Linked DNA regions of Homo sapiens: regions 2, 3 and 4 are each linked to region 1. Evidence: fine-mapped expression QTL. A gene starts in region 1. Each other region holds a variant in brackets. All regions are shown on one strand. Distances are between the middles of the regions.

Region 1 (5,180 bases):
AGACATGTTCTCCTTATGTTGCCCAGGCTGGCCTTGAACTCCTGGGCTCAAGTGATCTTCTCGTCTTGGCCTCCCAAAGTGCTAGGATTACATGTATGAGCCACTGCTTCAGACCCAAGGTCTTGGCACTCGGCCAGCCTCCATGCATGCCAGTTTTCCTTTCTTTCCTCTTTTAGCTGTAAATTCTTTGATTCTATGATGCCAAAGAAACACGGTAAGTCAGTGTTACCACGGTGGTTGTTGTTCACTGATGGTTCATGAAATCAGAAAAGTAAGGATAAGGAAGTAAACTTTCAAAGAGATAAATTGATTCAATTTTGATTATCTGTCTATGTCTACTGTGAAACGACTGTGATAAGAGATAGTGATTTTTGTTTGTATTTTCCAGATGATATACATGGTTTATAAATTTAGGTCTCTTGGCCCAGATTTTTTTCTGAATTTTCACTAGCCCATAAAGACAAATGCCTAGAAATAGCAGTAGCTGAGCAGGACTTTTTAAACTATGTGTGGTAAAACAGCAATTGTTTTAAAATTGTCCAATATATCACAGACTGTGGCTTTTGTAAAATTAAAACTAAATTACTTGAAAAATAAATTTTAAAAAAGCATATACAGATACAAGCTCCATTTTTTAATTATCAAGATCAATGACATGAAATGATTCTGTCAAATTGTAATGCAAGTCTCTCAACACTTACCTTCAATTTCTGTGCTTATTTTTCTGGAAGCTGGCAACCACAGGTTCACAGATAACTCTTGGAGTATCACAGAGCGGGGAACTCTGCCCCACTTGGAGGAAGGTCCACTTAGTAACAGAGCAAAGTTCTTAACCTGGGGTTTGTAGATATAATTCTGAAAGCCTGTGAACTTGGAGGGGGAAAATATTTACATATCTTTTCTTTGCTAAATTCTAATTGAAATTTAGAGTTAGGCTGCAAACTACAGTGGTGTTAGTAGTACCTATGAATTTGGTTTCAAGAGAGGTCACAGTTACTTTCACATCATATATTTAAAACAATCTCAAGATATTGTTTACGCTTATCATGTTTTTGAAATTGCAATCGCTATTAGACATATCGCTTTATTGTTAGTATGTCATTAAAGAGGCACAAACTATAATTTAAAAAATATTATAGTAACTGTGTTTCAATGTAATTGATTTTCTTTGTATCTCAGCTCACTACAACCTCCGCCTCCTGGGTTCAAGTGATTCTCTTGCCGCAGCCTCATGAGTAGCTGGGATTACAGGCACGCACCGCCATGCCCGGCTAATTTTCGTACTTTTAGTAGAGACGCGGTTTCACCATGTTGGCCAGGCTGGTCTTGAACTCCTGGCCTCAGGTGATCTGTCCACCTCAGCCTCCCAAAGTGCTGGGATTACAGGCGTGAGCCACTGCACCTGGCCTAAGAATTAATTCTAAGAGGGGTTTATAAGCATGTCTCAGCTCCATAAGTTCTTCTTGCCCACTGCCCTCCAAAAAGATCAATGAGAACAGCAGGCATTGCAGTAAATAAAGAGTTGAATAATCACAGTGTTGGCCAAACAAGAGCAGGCAAAAACTTCTCAATCCCCTCTCCCTCAGGATTCAAAGGCTAAGGTTTGTAAAGGGTACTTTGGTGGGCATGGGGCTGGGGAACTTGTATAATTGATTGGCAGGGAATGAAATCACAGGAGCACCTAAAACTGTCTTTGTGCAACTGAGTCAGTTCCCAGGAGGGGTGTGTGTGTTGGCCTCAAGACTAGGTGGTGTCTGTTGGTCTACTGAAATGCTAACAAATATCTAAAAGACCAGTTATTTAGGTTTCACAATAGTGATTGATATGGTTAGGCTTTGTGTCAGAACCCAAATCTTATCTTGAATTGTAATCCCCATAATCCCCATGTGTCAAGGGAGGGACCAGGTGGGATGTGATTGGATCATGGGGGCGGATCCCCCTATGCTGTTCTCATGATAGTGGGTGAGTTCTCATGAGATCTGATGGTTTTGCAAAGCAGTTTTCCCTGCTCTTGCTCACTCTCTCTGGCCTGCCGCCATGTTAAGAAGTCCCTGCTTCCCCTTCCACCATGATTGTTTCCTGAGGCCTTCCCACCCTTGCGGAACTGAGTCAACGAAACCTCTTTTCTTTATAAATTACCCAGTCTCAGGCATGTCTTTATAGAAGTGTGAAAACAGACCAATACAGTGATGTTATCTTTGGTAGTTGGGGAAGTTATGAATTTTGTGACACTGGTTGTGTGACTGGGGCAGTAAGCAACTTATAGAAAAACAAACTAAGCCATGGCAGGACATTGTTTATGCCTATTCTTTAGCAAAGTCTAAGCCCCTACCATAATTCCAACCTTGCCTTATGAATGCGCCTTTAAGCTCCAGGCAAGGAGGGGGATCATTTTCCCTTGACTCCAAGTTTAACTATAAACTAAATCCCTCTCATAGGTTTCTTGGCCTTTGTACTAGAATAAGCAAAAAGCCAACCAAAAAAAAAAAAAATCCCCTAGAAAACATAATTTAGCCTGGGAGGTTAGAAGCAAGATGGAGTCAGTCTTGTTAGATTTCTCTTATTTATAGTTCTGCAAAGGCAGTTCAAGAGTCACCAGACTGTTAAAGGATTTCCATACTGCAAACAAGCTTAAGGACACCTTAAAGAAGAAAGAAGAAAACTATTTTTAAAACATTTTTAAAACAACTTCCTTCCATCACAATCATCAGATTGTGCTACTAAACGTCAGTGAGTTCCTGAGAGATTCGGAGTCAGTGCAAGAGACCAGGGCTCTTTTGGAATACTGGGGTCATTTATTTTTTGCTCTTTATCATCTACAAATTGTGTCTGTGTTCTCTTACCAGACATACAGGGTGTCCTCACCACCGATTAAACATTCAGTGCCTGGAGGGGATGGAGTGGGTCATGGGAGCTGGCTTTTCCTTCCAAAAGTCTTAAGGATGTCCTTCTTAGAGCAAGACCACGATTACTAATTAACTAAAAATTCTGATCCTGGAAATAAAAGCTGGCCATTCATTTGCATTTGAAAGCCATTAACATTTTCTTGATAGGTCGGTAAATAGTTACCAGATCTTTGGTTGCTTTGGTGGACTGTGCTCCTCTGCTTTTATTGCTAAGCCATCCTTCAGACAGAGAGGGAGCGGCTGCAAGAGGTAATGAGGTATGTTTGTGAACCTTGTATTCTTTTACGGTTACAGATGTGTGTCTACAAGTGTGTGTGAATTTGAGTTGATCTCTTTTAGTCAAAATGCCCTTGTTGGCCGGGTGCAGTGGCTCACACTTGTAATCCCAGCACTTTGGGAGGCCGAGGCGGGTGGATCACGAGATCAGGAGATCGAGACCATGGTGAAACCCCATCTCTACTAAAAAAATACAAAAAATTAGCCGGGCATGGTGGCGGGCGCCTGTAGTCCCAGCTACTCGGAGAGGCTAAGGCAGGAGAATGGCGTGAACCTGGGAGGTAGAGCTTGCAGTGAGCCGAGATCACGCCACTGCACTCCAGCCTGGGTCGTAGAGCGATACTCCGTCTCAAAAAAAAAAAAAAAGCCCTTGTTAATTTGTTAAACACAAAGATAAACAACACCAATAATAAATCAAAAATTATGCACATGCATACACATGGAACAAAATTCTCATTTATCTTTTTTTCTTAGTGTGTGTATATTTTTCTGAACTAAGGCTGGATCTATAAGCCTGATTGTAGTGAAACCTGTGTGTTTGTGTGTGTTTCTGTGTGAGGTGTGATGAATTATTTAATACTTAGGTTGAGGTAGCAGGCAGAAATTCTTTCAGATTCTGGAAATGAAGTGAGAGAAATGAATAAAAGGAGTTAGAATTTGGGAGTGAGATTAGAGCATTTTCCCTCTGAAAGGATTTGGAGTTGTGATTGAGAAAATGTAACTGAAGAACCAATTATAATCAGAAAATTGAGAAATATATCACTATGCTTATGGGTTTGGTGCCTCTGTTGATTAAATACAGAATAATTTTAGGGGATAGTCTGAGGATGTGTGTAAAATATTGGGATGCATTTATGAGTTGGTGTGCATTGGTGGGTAGGAGAGGTTTCCTGTGGAATGTGGGAGGAGGTCATAAAGAGAAAGGTAGGGTATCTGTCCTGGCAGTCATGTGTGGAGTAGAATGGGAGTGCTCGTGGGAAGAGGAGAAGGTGATAAATTGTTGTTGGCCCTTAAACTTAAAAACTTAAAATAAAATACTTAAAATAAACTTAAAATAAAACTTAAAATAAAACTTAAAAAAAGTTGGATCCTTACTAGTTGCCAGTCTAGCTAGACACACGCAGGCATTTCTTTTCTGACTGGTTACAGAGGTGGGAAGGGAGAGTTACTCTTGGGGAAAGAGAGAGAAATTGAGACTAATCCCCATGGGTCTCCCTGAAAAAGGATACCACTAGGTTCTTCATGCAGGATCTGATCAGTGGCTTTGCTGGGCGAGGAAGACCTCCCAATGTCCAAACTGTCTACAGTCTGTGTCCTGGTGTGGGACAGTAAGTGTATGTCTGTAGGTGTGCAAAGAGGGGGTGAGATGGAGGGGGTCTTTGGTTTGTTGTGCTGGTAGGTCCCTGTGCTACCAGGGACCAAATGAAGTGGGACACTAAATTTAAGACAGCTTGTTGCTATTTCAGTCACACTCTCACAAGATGCCAATGATTATTTTTTATTATCAGGCATTCCCTCACAAATACATTTTAATGAGCTAATAAAATTACTATAAAAATTGTTCTATAAGCATGGAATGGAACTAGAAAAGAAATTTTCCATTTAAAATTTGTTCAGGTGGCAGCTGTGGAATGTGATGAGAAATATAAGCCTTTGCACACCCTGTTGCTGGGCTCAAGGAGGAGTTAGCTGTCTCCTAGAGATGATCCTTTTGCAGTTCAGATGGGGAAACTGAGACCCAGAGGGGTTAAGTGGATTTTTCCAAGGTCATACAGCTGGCTAGGGTCAGAGCTGACTCTTAAATCTCTCACCTTGGGTGTGACCAGACTTGGAAGAAAAAAGCCATTCATTAGCTACCTTATCCCTTCCCATTCACCAAGCAGCTGGGAAAGGATGGCCCAACCTACTAATATCGCCCAGCATTTTTGATGAATAGCTATGGCTCACTGGGGTCCTCTTTGCAAGTTGTTCTTAGTCTATCTATCCACAATGAATCCT
Region 2 (5,180 bases), 240 kb before region 1:
GGGCATTGATAGATGAATCATCCCAATGGGATTCTAAGCTTCAGTTCAAATTGAAGGGGGTTGCTGAGCAGTGGTTAGTGTCTAACCTAAACATCTTTAAGACTAACCTACCTTCTTCATATCTTTTGTTTTTGGACAGTTTCATTACTAGCATTGATGAAACATAGTTTACCAGCAATAAGGACCTGAAATATAACTAGAGATGAAATCGTTCATCTCCAGGTGATGCCACAGGAGCTGTGGTTCTATTCTATCTTTCTCTGCCCCTCTTATCTATCCTTTTAGAGTCTTCTTCAGAACTCTTGGGGAAGGTAGAAGAGGATCCTCTTAACAACCTCTGTCAGTGCCTCCCTTAGAGCCTTAGGTCCTACATTTTCCTTTTATTTTTCCACATGAATCATTATGTACATCATGTAATCTTACTTTTTATTACAAGATTCAGGAAATTTTAGAATACTAATAATTTGCCAATAAAGATGAAATAGTAACTCAGTTTTTCAGTGCATCTTTTGCTCTTTAAAGTTTACATCAGCCCTCCCGAGGTCTGCCTGCCAGTTTGCTGCTGTATCCCAGAGGTTGGCTGCCACTGTGCAGGTTGTTTTGTTCAAATGGTAGAAGTCTCTCGTACTGTCTAGGCCACTCTGTCTCCAGTTTGGCCTCTGACCCAGCCTATATATTTGCTTCCCAGCCTACATGTTCTGTCCTCTCTGCCTGAGAGTACGAGTACAGTGCTAACTGTAGCTTAGGTCATATTGGACTTTATTAGGTTCAGAATTCCCAAGCTATGTTATAGGTCTGTGACTTTTTTGTTTTAAGGTATTTTCTGCACACTTGAGTAGCTTTTTTTATACCTACAATGCATTTTGGTTGAGGAAAGATGGAATTTTTTAGCTTTATCCTCTCCTTGCTCAGGAACAGTAGAAAATTCATTGCTGTTTTCTCCTGCCAGCCATCTTTCTTTTTCCTGCAGCTGGGACAGTTAATCAGCATATTAACTCTGCTCTCTTAAGTTCACACATTAAAACTGCCTGGTGATGTAGTCTTTATTCCTTCATGCCACATTCCTTAAGCAAAATTGGGCAGTATATAAAATTTATCTTTTTAGCAACTCTTTCTTCTATCAGCACAGCAGCTTTTATACTCCTTAAGTGTTGTGAGAAATTATGCAGATTAACAGTCCTGTTTAAGCAGGGTAATAAATCTCTGCTTTGGGAAAATGACATGGTGAACAGAAGAGCTTAATTACCAACCTGGAGCAGTTTCTCAGCCCTGAATGCAGGGGTGGAAGAGGATGCTGTGCTGGATCATTGTGAGCCGAGGGGCTCTGCTTTAAACTCTCCCCTGGAGGTTGCCTCTTCTCTCCATGCCTCTGAAAGGCTGTGGAGCTGAAGCAGTGGTGCTTTATCAGACTTAGGTGTGTAGCATGCAGTCTTCAGCATGCGTATGATTCTAGCAGAATGATTCTCGCCTCAAGTCAGTCAGACTTGCTAGGGAAACTTTGCCTACCCCTGGGAAGCCCTATCTGCTGAGAAACTTTCTCCTGCTCCCTAGCTGGTCTAGGAAGAGCGCATTTGGAAATATGATAGCAGTAAATAGCAGTAAAAGACTAGGGGTCTTCTAACCCAAGTTTTGGGTCTTGCATTTCCCTTTTTGATGTGATAGTGTCAGGGAATAAACCTCAGAAAACTGCACTGTGACCTCGATTTGGAGTTTCCTGTTAAATGGTAAGATGAATAGTATACCTAGAAGAATGGGAGAAAAAGTTTCAAACAGTATGTCTGGGGTATCCCATTTTTGAAAAAGAAGTTGTAATGAAGATAGGCTTAATGTCTGGAGGGAGAAACATGAGGATGTTATTATCTCTAGAGAGGGTGATTATGCGTGATTTTCCTTGTTTCTTTACAGTTTTTTAAATATATATTTTAGCATTGAACATATATTACTTTTATAATAAAAAAATAAAACTTTTTATCTGGGGAAAAAAACCTTTCCATTATTTCTGAGCCAGACTAATTTACTCATTCACTTTTAGTGAGTACCACTTTACTGGATATGAATGAGAAAATCTTTTATATATTTTCCCCCACTATCTGTATTTTAGCATCTCATGCTTTTATAATTCATTCATCTGTTAATACGTGTACACAGCCCAAAATGATTTACTTTGAATACCAACCTAGCCAGGCGCAGTGGCTCATGCCTGTAATCCCAGCACTTTGGGAGGCCAAGGCGGGTGGATCACGAGGTCGGGAGATCGAGACCATCCTGGCTAACATGGTGAAACCCCGTCTCTACTGAAAATACAAAAAATTAGCTGGGTGTGGTGGTGGGCGCCTGTAGTCCCAGCTACTGGGGAGGCTGAGGTGGGAGAATGGCATGAACCCAGGAGGCGGAGCTTGCAGTGAGCCGAGATCACACCACTGTACTCCAGCCTGGGCGGCAGAGCCAGACTCCATCTCAAAAACAAAACGAACAAACAAA[C/A]AAAAAAACCAACCTATATGAGATCTACTGTTTGCTGCCTTTACAGTTCTCAAAGAATCAATCATTTCTTAAAACACACTGGACATTTTATTCAAAGATGATCCAAAAACACCAAAGATATATTTCTGTGGCAGTTTTGGCAATAGAGTATACATTTCTTTAGGAATTACTTGTCATTGCAATGTGGATTACAGCCTAACTTTTGCAGCCAAGTTAGGAGAAATTAGTGCTGTTTTCCCTTTGTTCCCTAATGAGATCATGGCAATTCTTGAAGGCAGGGTTTTCTTTTACTAAAACCACCCTTTTTCCCCAATCTAACTCAGCCTCACACAGTGACATGGAGATTGATAAATGTTTGTCATTCGGTTAGGTGGGACTTGAAAAGAAAATGAGGGCAGGATCACCTTGCTATTTTTCTGTTAGAGTTTGCATAATATTCTGTGAAGATTTGTGGGAGTAACAGCAAGAAAATCGTTGTGGAAAATGAGAGGCAAGTCCAAGGTTAATGAATTACAGGGAAATCTCTTAAAGATGTAACAATAATCATATTAATGACTGTCATTTCTCTTCTGGTTACTATGTACCGAGCTAAGCTAAGTACTTTTTATCATTGTCTCATTTAGCCATTATCCTAAGAAGAAGGTACAATAATCCCATTTTACAGGTGAGGAAACCCAAAACTGGGAGAGGTTAAATAACTTGTCAAAGTCATGCATCTTCCAGGATGCACACCTGGAGGTTGAACTCAGGTATGTGAAGTTTGCATTTTGCTTTCTGCCCAATGCCTGCCTCCACTTGCATTCATTCTCCACTGGCCCTCCGTATCCACAGATTCCCGCAACCAACTGTATTTGTCTGTTTTCACACTGCTATGAAGATACTACGTGAGACTGGGTAATTTATAAACGAGAGGTTTAATTAACTCACAGTTCCGCATGGCTGGGGAGGCTTCAGGAAATTTATGGTCGTGGCAAAAGGTGAAGGGGAAGCAGGCACCTTCTTCACAAGGCAGCAGGAGAGAGAGGGCACAGGGGAAACTGCTACTTTTAAAACCATCAGATCTGGGGAGAATTCCCTCACTATCAGGACAACAGCACAGGGGAAACCACCCCCATGATCCAGTCACCTACCAGGTCCCTACCTTGACACGTGGGGATTACAATTTGAGATGAGATTTGGGTGGGGACATAACCAAACCATATCATCCTGCCCCAGCCCCTCCCAAATCTCATGTCCTTTTCACATTTAAAAACCAATCATACCTTCTCAACAGTCCCCCAAAGTCTTAACTCATTCCAGCATTAACTCAAAAGTCCAAGTCCGAAGTCTCATCTAAGACAAGCCAAGTCCCTTCCACCTATGAGCCTGTAAAATAAAATTAGTTACTTCTAAGATACCATGAGGGTACAGGCATTGGGCAAATGTTTCCAGTCCAAATGGGAGAAATTGACCAAAATAAAGGGGCTACAGGCCTCATGCAGGTCTGAAAACCCGGCAGAGCAGTCGTTAAATCTTAAAGCTCTGAAATCATCTCCTTTGATTCCACGTCTCACATGTAGGCCACCCCAGGGCATGCTGATGCAAGAGGTGGGCTCCAACAATCTTGGTCTTGGGCAGCTGCCCCTGCGTTCCTGTGGCTCAGCAAGGTACAGCCCCTGTGTCCACTTTCATGGGCTGGTGTTGAATGCCTGCAGCATTTCTAGGCACTTGGTGCAAGCTGTCAGTGTATCTACCTTTCTGGGGTCTGGAGGATGGGTGCCCCCTTCTCACAGCTCCACTAGGCAATGCCCCAGTGGGGACCCTGTGCAGGGGCTACAACTCCACATTTTCCTTCCACACTGCCATAGCAGAAGTTCTCCTTGAGGGCTCCTTTTAGCCGTGGCTGGTGCTGGATCCACTGGGATGCATGGAACCAAGTCCCGAGGTTGCACAGAGCAGTTGGGCCCTGGGTCTGGCCCAGGAAACCATTTTTCTCTCCAAGACCTCTGGGCCTGTGATAGGAGGGGCTGCCAAGAAGGTCTTTGACATGCCCTAGAGACATTTTCCCCATTGTCTTGACTATTAACATTCGGCTCCTTGTTACTTATGCAAATTTCTTCAGCCAGCTTGAATTCCTCCTCAGAAAGTTGGTTTTTCTTTTCTACCACATGGTCAGGCTGCACATTTTCCAAACCATTATGCTCTCCTTCTCTTAAATATAAGGTTCAGTTGGGCATCTTCTATATATCATGCACCCATATAGGACCTGAATGTAGGGATGTATATAACAGGATTCCTGCACTGAAGGAATTCACAATTAAGCTTATGAGGGGTTAGGGAGGATAAGCAGAAACTTTTATAGCTAACTGTGATAGGGTGTGAGGAGTAGCTTAGAAGAGAATGGATAGGTGAGCTTTCAGCAGAGGAAACAGCATGAGCAAAGATCCAGAAACAAAAGTTTATGAAACAAAGGTGAGGCATGGAAAGTGGGTTGGGGCTAGATAGTAAAGGGCCTTGAAAGCTTTCAGAGAACTTTGGCAATGGGGAGCAATAGAAGGTTTGAAAACAAGGACATCTTATCAGAATTGTGCGTTAGGAGAACAACAAAGACAGAGTGAAGGGCTAGAAGGAGAAAGCCTAGAGGCAGTTAGGAAGCTCTAATAAGCCTAGAAAGGTTAGCAAGAATGGGGATGAGAGGTGACTTGAGGGGCGTTTGGGAT
Region 3 (4,966 bases), 110 kb after region 1:
TCAAACAAGACAAGTAGGCAATTAGAACAGCATTTATATATTCTATAGCATAGAGTTCTACAGCACAGGTCCAGGCCATGTTTATCTTGTTTTTTGTTTGCAGATACCTATGGGAAAGGACTCTATTACTTGGCCAGCTTTTCTGCCAGCCAGGTGAGTGTGATTGATATGAAGTGAGAATAGGGTTCCACTGGCTTAGGAGGGTGCTGAATATCGTAAGGGCATAAAATACCACCTAGAATTTCTTCATTGCTCATCTTGCTAATTCACATTCTTCTACTTCTCTAGACTTCCGGTGGAAATTTACTATGCTCCCAGGAGGCTTTCTGCAATTAAACCTATCCACATCTCATCAGTAATGATCATTATTCTAGTTTACCATGTTACAGGTGGACGGGCAGTTTCTGTTATCTAGCCCTTGTTCCTGAGTTGCCTTGGAATGGTCTGCACATTTTGGGATTCCTCCACCTGTAGAATATAAGTATCTTAACAGCTGAGACTTTTTGTCTCCTGTAGAGTTCAGGGCAGTGCGAAAGACCCTGTAGCTGCTTGTCAATGCAAAGTGGATGGGAGTTGGCAATAGGCCATAGAGTGATGAAATCATGATTTCCATGATCCAAAGTTACAAGATGGTGACTCTGAAGTTGTCTTACTTTATGACCTACATTTGTGCCTAAAAAGAGGTTAGAAAAATTTGAACTAATTCTGCTATTATATTTTTCTTTTATCTCCAATTCAACAGAATACGATGCAAAGCCATATAATTTTCAACAATTACATCACTGGTACAAATCCTTTGAAACTGGGCTACATTGAAATCTGGGGAGTGGGCAGTGTCCCCGTTACCAGTGTCAGCATCTCTGTGAGTGGCATGGTCATAACACCCTCCTTCAACAATGACCCCACGACACAGGTTTGTGACCAGCAAAAAGTGCGAATGGTATTCTCCACCCTTAATATGCCTAGTGCAGTGCCTGACTGCTTCCCTTCCAAATGATGCCCTCTCCTGCCAGGCCCTCCGGGAATCCCTGAGTTTTCCATGTGTTAGGAATGGACCACGTGGAGATGAATGAAAAATCATGGTTTATCATCATTTGGAATCCATGGCCTGGATTCTTACTTTCCATGTTTGTCTTCTTGTCTGCAAACCTATGTAAAACTTTGTCTTGACTCCCTCACCTCTGCCTCAGAGATCAACTTCCCAAACAGGTTGGAACTATCATATTTTATCAAATATGATACCATCAGTGAAAATTGCTTCATTATTTCATGTGCCACAAAGAAAGAAAAAAGGATGACAAAACTATGATAGAATGCTTCCTTATCACTCAATTTTTTTTTTTTTTTTGAGACGGAGTCTCACTCTGTTGCCCAGGCTGGAGTGCAGTGGCATGTGATCTCAGCTCACTGCAAGCTCTGCCTCCCAGGTTCATGCCATTCTTCTGCCTCCCAAGTAGCTGTGACTGCAGGCGTCTGCCACTATGCCCGGCTAATTTTTTGTATTTTTAGTAGAGACAGGTTTTCACTGTGTTAGCCAGGATGGTCTCGATCTCCTGACCCTGTGATCCGCC[T/C]GCCTTGGCCTCCCAAAGTGCTGAGATTACAGGCGTGAGCCACTGTGCCCAGCCTCAGATTTTTATAATAAACTTATAGAAAGTTTTTGAAACTTCTTTAGCCATAAAGTTTTACCTATATATTTCAATATTGTAAGTGATAATATGGAGGAAAATGTTGAGTGGAGATACATTGATGATTCTGCCTCAACGTAATTTAAAAGAGGTAGACCCTAAATGTGAAGAAGCACTAGAAATAGCTTAACCAACTTGTATCGTATTTAAATTGTACTATTTAAATTCATATTAAACTGTTTTATTATTTAGTTTATTGTATTTATTATTATTTAGAAGAAAAATATGTGTTACAAATTGGTTAAGATATTTCCTCTGTACTGCAAAAGGTGTTGGTGATTCAGCATTTTATAAAAATTCTTCCACTAGTGTCTATGAAGTTTTTTTCCTGAGCCACTAACACACTTTATATACATTTTCATCCTAGTGCTTTCTTGATCTTACTAAATATTCCTTCCTGTAATAATCCTTAAATGTTTTCAGCCCATCCATTCATAACACAGTAATAGCAATGAAGCTTACACAGGCACAGACAATAACAATTATGCCATGAGTGCTGCTTGGCTCACAGTAATTCTATGGTTGTCGATTACAAGACACGCTCTTGTCAGATGAATGTTAAATATGTGAAAAATCTGTACCTTGGGATTAATGCTGTGTAGTGGTCCTGACACTTATCATCCCGATGGTAAATGAAACTTTCTTCCTTGTGTGCTTACTTATTATTTTTTTTCCTGAACTTTTTTCTTTCATAATCCTTCCTGATGATTAAGCCTGAAACAAAAGTTTTCTTTCAGTTTTGCATTCTTTACAGTTATTTCCTCATACTTGTGGTTTTCTTGTCAACAACTTCCCCAACTATACCATAAAGGACTTTGCCCAATCCTGTTGCTGACCAGCTCAGGGACAGACATGCAAGCTGATGAGGGCACATGCAGTGAAAGCTTCTTGACAGCATCTGCCTAGGAAGAAGCAGGAATAGTGGACTCTTGCTGGGCAAACACTGGGGTGCTATAGTGGAATAGGAGAAGGAGGAAACAGAAGGATGGTGCCAAGGAAAATCAACACCTCAGTAGAATGGAAAAGAGGGCATTCTCTCCAGTTTGTGCAGTTGTTTCTCTTCAGCGGTTGCATATTGAACATTTTTTTTTTTTTTGACTGAGTCTCACTCTGTTGCCTAGGCTGAAGTACACTGGTGCAATCTTAGCTCACTGCAGTCTCCGCCTCCCAAGTTCAAGTGATTCTCCTGGCTTAGCCTCCCTAGTAGCTGGGATTACAGGCACCTGCCACCACGCCTGGCTAATTTTTGTATTTTTATTAGAGCTGGGGTTTCACCATGTTGGCCAGGCTGGTCTCAAACTCCTGACCTCAAATGATCCACCCACCTGGGCCTCCCGGAGTGTTGGGATTACCGGCGTGAGCCACCGCACCCGGCCCATATTGAATTATTTAAAGGCCCATCTCTACCACTGAATAATCTTTGTACTCTAAAAAATTAGAAAACACCCTTCTCATCTGAAACTTTGAAGGCAGTCTTTTAACTAGACAATACAATGTAGAAGTATTAGGGGGTTATTTGGACTGGATACTTGCACCTGATTTATTTGCATGCAGGAAATTTCAACACCGGATGCCCAATTCTTTTCCTTTGGTTCCTAACAGGTATTAAGCATCGATGTGACTGACAGAAACATCAGCCTACATAATTTTACTTCATTGACGTGGATAAGCACTCTGTGAATTTTTACAGCAAGATTCTAACTAACTATGAATGACTTTGAAACTACTTATACTTCATACTCATAAAAATTATTGTGTGTTGCTAATTTGTTCATACCCACTATTGGTGAAATATTTCTGTTAATTTTGTTATATGTTTTTTGTGTGAACCCTAAAGGTTAAACCTTAGCCCTGTGGGATAGGCAGTTAGGGAGGTGTGGAAAATCTATGCATTACCTTAATGTCTCTGTGTGGTTAGTATGGTAGTGACTGTTCATCATATGACATTTACTGAAGATGAACTGGGTCCATGATGAAGTGTGTGTATGTCCACGTTTGTAATCATAGAATGGACCCCATTCTTTTGTTAAATACACAAGAGAAAGCTTTCTGTGACAGTTCCAGGTCTTGAAGCTAATCAGCATCTCAAGAAAGTATCCAGAAAGAACATCTGCTAGTTGGTTATAGGCGGTGGGAGGAATAATATACCTAATTGGTTATAGGTGGGGGGAGCATGATAAGCAAAGAAAAGGCAAACACAAGGAAAGATCAGATGAAACAGAAGATGATAGTAAAAGTGATCCTAAGTAAGAACATAATGTAAAATTGTCAGCAGCCTCATGGGGAGGAAAAAGGAAGAGTCAACTCACTTGAAGAAGAGGGTCTTGAGAAATCCTTAGCATAAAGGGCTACTGGTGAGATTGAGATCTGAGCAGGCAAAGCTCAAAAGAGAGTTTGGAGGTTAAAAATAATTTATTTTTGCAGTAGTGTGCTTTGAAATGTGTAAATCTTATTTCTAATGTATACAACCACATTTCACATAAAAATATGCAATTTATATGCCAGATAAAAATAAAACAAGTGAATTTGCAAGTGATTTTGAATTTTGTGCTATTTTGACCATGAGTAATCTCTGTTTGGGGTTAAGGTTCTTGTTTAGCAAACTCTTATGAATTTGTCTTTCTGGTTCTCTTCGGCATCACAGAACCTACAGCCAAATCCACCAATAGGATGATAACCTTTATAATTATCCTTTTTCTTACATCTCTGCAAGGAGTCTTTTATAAGATGTGGGTTTGTGGAAGGGTCTATTGATTACTATTTTAATCATCATAGCAGTTGCTATATTTAGGAAAATACCAACTCCAGTAAAAATAGGAGTTGCAACCTTCTTGCTTAAAATTCTATAGGGTTAAAATGTGAGATAAGGAAATTATATATTAATGTTCAACAGGAATATTAACTTTTGATGTTACCTGAAAATGAGTTGAAAATGAATGTGTGTGGAATGAATGAACCTACTTCTCTGTGTTTTCTTCTTTTCTTATAACCAGGAAGCCATTCATTCTCCCTGCACACTCATGTGTCAGCACCTGCATAAGGCTAGAGACAAACAATATTGTTAAATCATCTAATTATCACAATACGGGGCATTTGGATGAGGGCCTGAGCTAACTAGGAAACTGGTGAAATATGGAAAAGCAGCCATGGGAATCCTTTGATCAAAAAGGTGGGAAACTTGTCAGCTTTCCTCTAACAAACTCAGGAAGGCCACAAAGATGAAAACGTTATTTACTTGATATTTAAAAAATATTTAATGTTACCATCAAGGATATGTTGGT
Region 4 (4,000 bases), 100 kb after region 1:
CAATTGGAGTATGCTTTCAGTGACCTTCTTAAATCCCCTAGAAATTCCAGGGCAAGCTCCCAACACTGTTCTCTTTCTCCTTTAGAGACAAGACCCTGTGTCCTGGGATGTTGCTTTTGTGAATATTTCCAGAACTGTCCTGCAGACCAGATACACCCTGTTGCCATATCTGTATACCTTGATGCATAAGGCCCACACGGAGGGCGTCACTGTTGTGCGGCCTCTGCTCCATGAGTGAGTGTCCAGCAGGGATCCCAATGCCTAATGGATGACTTATTGCATTCTATATGGTGACAGTTGAATTCTTCCAAATTAAAGACATGATTGCCTTTTGACATGAGCTCTTCAGGTGCAGACCATACTTTATTACTCTCTTTAGCACAGTGCTATACATGCCTTAGGTCATTAATAAAAGGTTATTGATTGAATGAGCAAAACTGAAATGATGCAGTATAGCATAGAATAATTTCTTTCTAATTTGGCTGTGCAAAGGCCTATCTATCTTTTGTAGCAGTTTGGTTATATGTAGCCAGATCACAGGAGAAGGATTTCAGGAAGAGATTTGAGGGAAAAGGGCCATCCTTGCATTTGAAGTTTGCCATGGTTGAGAAATGGGGCAAGTATTTTACAAGAGAGAATACATCTACATCCCAGCATTTCTGAAGTTTGAGGCACATCCCATGGGGAAAGCAGAGGCTGGGTGCTCCTGATGAAGCTAGGCCTAGGAAAAAGGCAAGGATGGCTCAGGGGCAGCTGTATTTCCGACTTGGATCTGAACTTGAGGAGCTTCTTCAGAGTGTCGGGCTGGGGCTCTGTTGGGCTCTGTTGGGCACCTTCATTTCCCTTTCCAGGTTTGTGTCAGACCAGGTGACATGGGACATAGACAGTCAGTTCCTGCTGGGCCCAGCCTTCCTGGTCAGCCCTGTCCTGGAGCGTGTGAGTATGGAGGCCTCCGATGAGGGGAGGATCCCAGCTGTGAGGCTTGGGGAAAAGGACGAGGAGAAGAGGCCTGAGCTGGTGGGGGTCCTAAGACATGGTTTCTTATTCTACCTGTGTCTCTTCCTCTCTTTCTGAGCTGAAGTCCATCACTTAGGTGTTCTTGGCCTCAGCTCCTTCATCTTTAAAATGAGCCTAACAATTCTGGTTCATAGGATGATCAAGAAGAAAACACCTCATGGTATATTCAATGACACAATCGTTTCTTCGTTAACTAAAATAAGGAATAGAAGATCAGATGGGGGCAGTATTGTAAAGAATTCATAACAGTCCTCTAGCACTATTACAACTTTTCAGAAGGATTGCTTGGCAATGTGTGTGTACTTGTATTGCTGCTGGCTAACCCTTCCCTTCCTCTGCAGGAGCTCCTCCCAGCAGTAAAAGCCATTTCTTTACTTCTATTGTTGATTAGGCTTCTGATTAAAATACCAGTTAATTGCACCTTCCCAAAATCTTTTTTTTTTTTTTTTTGAGACAGAGTCTCACTCTGTCATCCAGGCTGGAGTGCAGTGGTGCTATGTCAGCTCAGTGCAACCTCTGCCTCCCAGGTTCAAGTGATTCTCCTGCCTCAACCTGCCGAGTAGCTAGGACTACAGGCACGTGCCACCAGGCC[C/T]GGCCAATTTAAATTTTTTTTTTTATTTTTAGTAGAAACAGCATTCCACCATGTTAGTCAGGATGGTCTTGATCTCCTGACCTCATGATCCGCCTGACTCGGCCTCCCAAAGTGCTGAGATGACAGACGTGAGCCACCGTGTCCAGCCCGCAAATCTTATGGTACCCACAGAATTTTTTTCTGCCCCAGACACAACCTCAGTTGTTTGTCTCTTTAAGAGGGAATGGCGTAAGCCTATTTCTATAAGCAAATAGTGAATTTTTTTTTTTCCCGAAGTCCTGGGTACCAAAGTGCTTTATGAAAGCCACTTGTTTTGGGGTAGACAGATCTCTCCTGTTTGAAAAAGGAAAAGGGATGGAAGGTTTCCTCAATAGGTGACCTCCTGGGACATGAGGCAAGTGGGCCCAAGGCCATCACAATTATTTAACCTCTTTCCTAAGTATTTTGGTTTCTCTGTCCTGGAAAATGGTGCCACTGCCACACCTTGTTTATGTTTCATTTTAGAATGCCAGAAATGTCACTGCATATTTCCCTAGAGCCCGCTGGTATGATTACTACACGGTAAGTTTTTCTGAATGTTTATACAACACGGGAAAATGGTAGAGAGTACAAAGGCTTTAGATCTGATAGACCTTAGGTCAAATGCTGGCTCTGTAACCCACCTGCTGTGTGGTCTTAGAGAAGCCACTTTAACCCTTGTAACCTCGGTTTTCTCACCTCCAAGTGGAGTAAGACCACTTCCCTCATAGAACTGTTGTGAAATGACACATAAAGCATCTCACTCAGGTTTTTCGTGGGTGTTCTCTTTGTGTTAATTTTTAATATTTTCTTATATCACTGCTATTTACAATGTTTTGTAAAGGCAGATGCTTTTGAGATTGTGTTGCAAACTATAGTTTTTGTTTTTAATGTTTATATCTTTACCTGCTGTAAGTTTGTAAGCATAGAGGCCTTTTTGTCTCTGTCTTTTTATTAAATATCTCCTTCCATAGCATAGATGCTCAAAGAAGGGCACTGCACATAATTACCTAAGGTAAGCAAGTGATTAGGCAATGTGCAAAACACACACAGAGGTATGGGACCCAACCCTTGTGAGTCTAAGCAGTGCAAGTGCATTTAGAAATGAGGAAGCAATGAAGAGCTCCTTGCCGCATAGTTTCTGTGCTATTATGTTCCCCAAAGACTTATCTGGGAAGCCAGGGTCTTCCCGGGCAGCTCTGGGGTGGTGGGCTCTTGCTGGGACCCTGACAAGTCAGACCCTGATTCTTGGGGAAGAATCAAAGAAGGCATTTCCTTGGTCTCTAATGGGGCCTCTTCTGACTTTCTGAGGAGAACATCGTTGAGGGCTGGAAATACAGCAAAGGGGTACAAGCAGGGATACAGGAAGCAGAGCATGTGCTGGCCCCTTTCATCCAAGGGGATTGCAGTGAGATTAGGTGAAAACTGGAGAAGGATGTGCATTTTGTTCCTTCTCTTCTCAGTCCATTGGAGCCCAAGTCCTCTCCACAGCCCCAGACTCCTCTTCCTGCTGCTAGTCTGGATCTGCCCTTAGGGTGGTAACATGTTAAGGCTCTGCTATGTGTGTCCCAGCCAGGCGTTTCCCAGGAAGAGGTGGCCAGCTTTCTTTACGTGAGACTGGCCTTTGTCCTGAGTGTGCATGTTGAGTCTCCCATTCACTAACAGAAGATGTCTTTGGTTGAAGAGGAAAAGACAAAAGAAATCATGGAGCAAGCTATTTAGAAAAAGATGAAATTTTGATGTTTAATTAAAATGAAGATGAATTTCATAGTTAATATTAATGAAGAAGTGTCACCTTAATTAATCTTCCCAAGTTTGGGTAACTATTACTCATTCTAGAGCACAAGCTGGCAAAAACTATGGCCCACAGCCAAATCTGGTTGTTAGCTGATTTGCAAATAAAGTTTTATTGGAACACAGCCATGCATATTTGTTCGCTTGTTGTCAACAATAACTGCTTCTTACCTGTAAAGTAGCAGCTCTGAAATGAGAGGATTTTGCCTACCAGGGGACATTTGGCAATGCCTGGAGATATTTTTGGTTGTCACAACAGAGTGGGGGTGAGGAGGTGATGCGGCTGACATCCGAGGATTCTGCTAAATATCAAAAGGCACAGGATAGCCCCATCGCCAGAGAATTGTCTGGCCCCAAATCTCAATAGTGCTGAGACTGAAAAGCCCTGCTCTAGTTGAGAACATGTAGGATGGAAGCATGGTCCCTTAGGTTCTGATACAGGTGAGAGAGTAGCACCTCTTCCTGTCACACATCAGGCAAATGTAGTTTGTACAGTGGAAGCAAAGGCAAGAGACCCTAACAAGATATTATAGCAGCCTTGCAAGATTTCTTGCAGCACTGGGTGAATGCAGAATGGGT

Direction of the effects. Positions count from the first base shown, and alleles are read on the strand shown. Sizes are in standard deviations (SD) of each study's normalised expression. Not every link is listed here.
For the expression in fetal neocortex of the gene that starts at base 3,112 in region 1, allele A in region 2 goes with a lower level than allele C (moderate effect, 0.65 SD a copy in Walker 2019).

What was found. PIP is the estimated chance that this variant, and not a neighbour inherited with it, causes the effect. A credible set is the group of variants that fine-mapping cannot tell apart.
Region 2: its variant is the best candidate, but not a certain one, in a credible set for the expression of MGAM in fetal neocortex (Walker 2019, PIP 0.76).
Region 3: its variant is the best candidate, but not a certain one, in a credible set for the expression of MGAM in whole blood (TOPMed, PIP 0.73).
Region 4: its variant is the best candidate, but not a certain one, in a credible set for the expression of MGAM in blood mononuclear cells (TOPMed, PIP 0.89).

The regions. Positions count from the first base shown.
Region 1 is chr7:141,992,768-141,997,947 of GRCh38, forward strand. MGAM (maltase-glucoamylase) reads left to right here and starts at 3,112. Exons shown (of 71, transcript NM_001365693.1): 1 at 3,112-3,163. RefSeq lists an enhancer at 2,810-3,311.
Region 2 is chr7:141,756,140-141,761,319 of GRCh38, forward strand. No RefSeq gene overlaps it. Among named protein-coding and RNA genes, the nearest start is that of TAS2R3, 5.4 kb to the right of the region's middle. The variant C/A (reference allele first, on the strand shown) is at 2,482.
Region 3 is chr7:142,102,527-142,107,492 of GRCh38, forward strand. MGAM (maltase-glucoamylase) reads left to right here. Exons shown (of 71, transcript NM_001365693.1): 69 at 104-153; 70 at 743-913; 71 at 3,288-4,221. The coding sequence ends at 3,365. Among named protein-coding and RNA genes, the nearest start is that of MGAM2, 6.7 kb to the right of the region's middle. The variant T/C (reference allele first, on the strand shown) is at 1,572.
Region 4 is chr7:142,095,480-142,099,479 of GRCh38, forward strand. MGAM (maltase-glucoamylase) reads left to right here. Exons shown (of 71, transcript NM_001365693.1): 64 at 86-234; 65 at 852-936; 66 at 2,114-2,170. Among named protein-coding and RNA genes, the nearest start is that of MGAM2, 14 kb to the right of the region's middle. The variant C/T (reference allele first, on the strand shown) is at 1,610.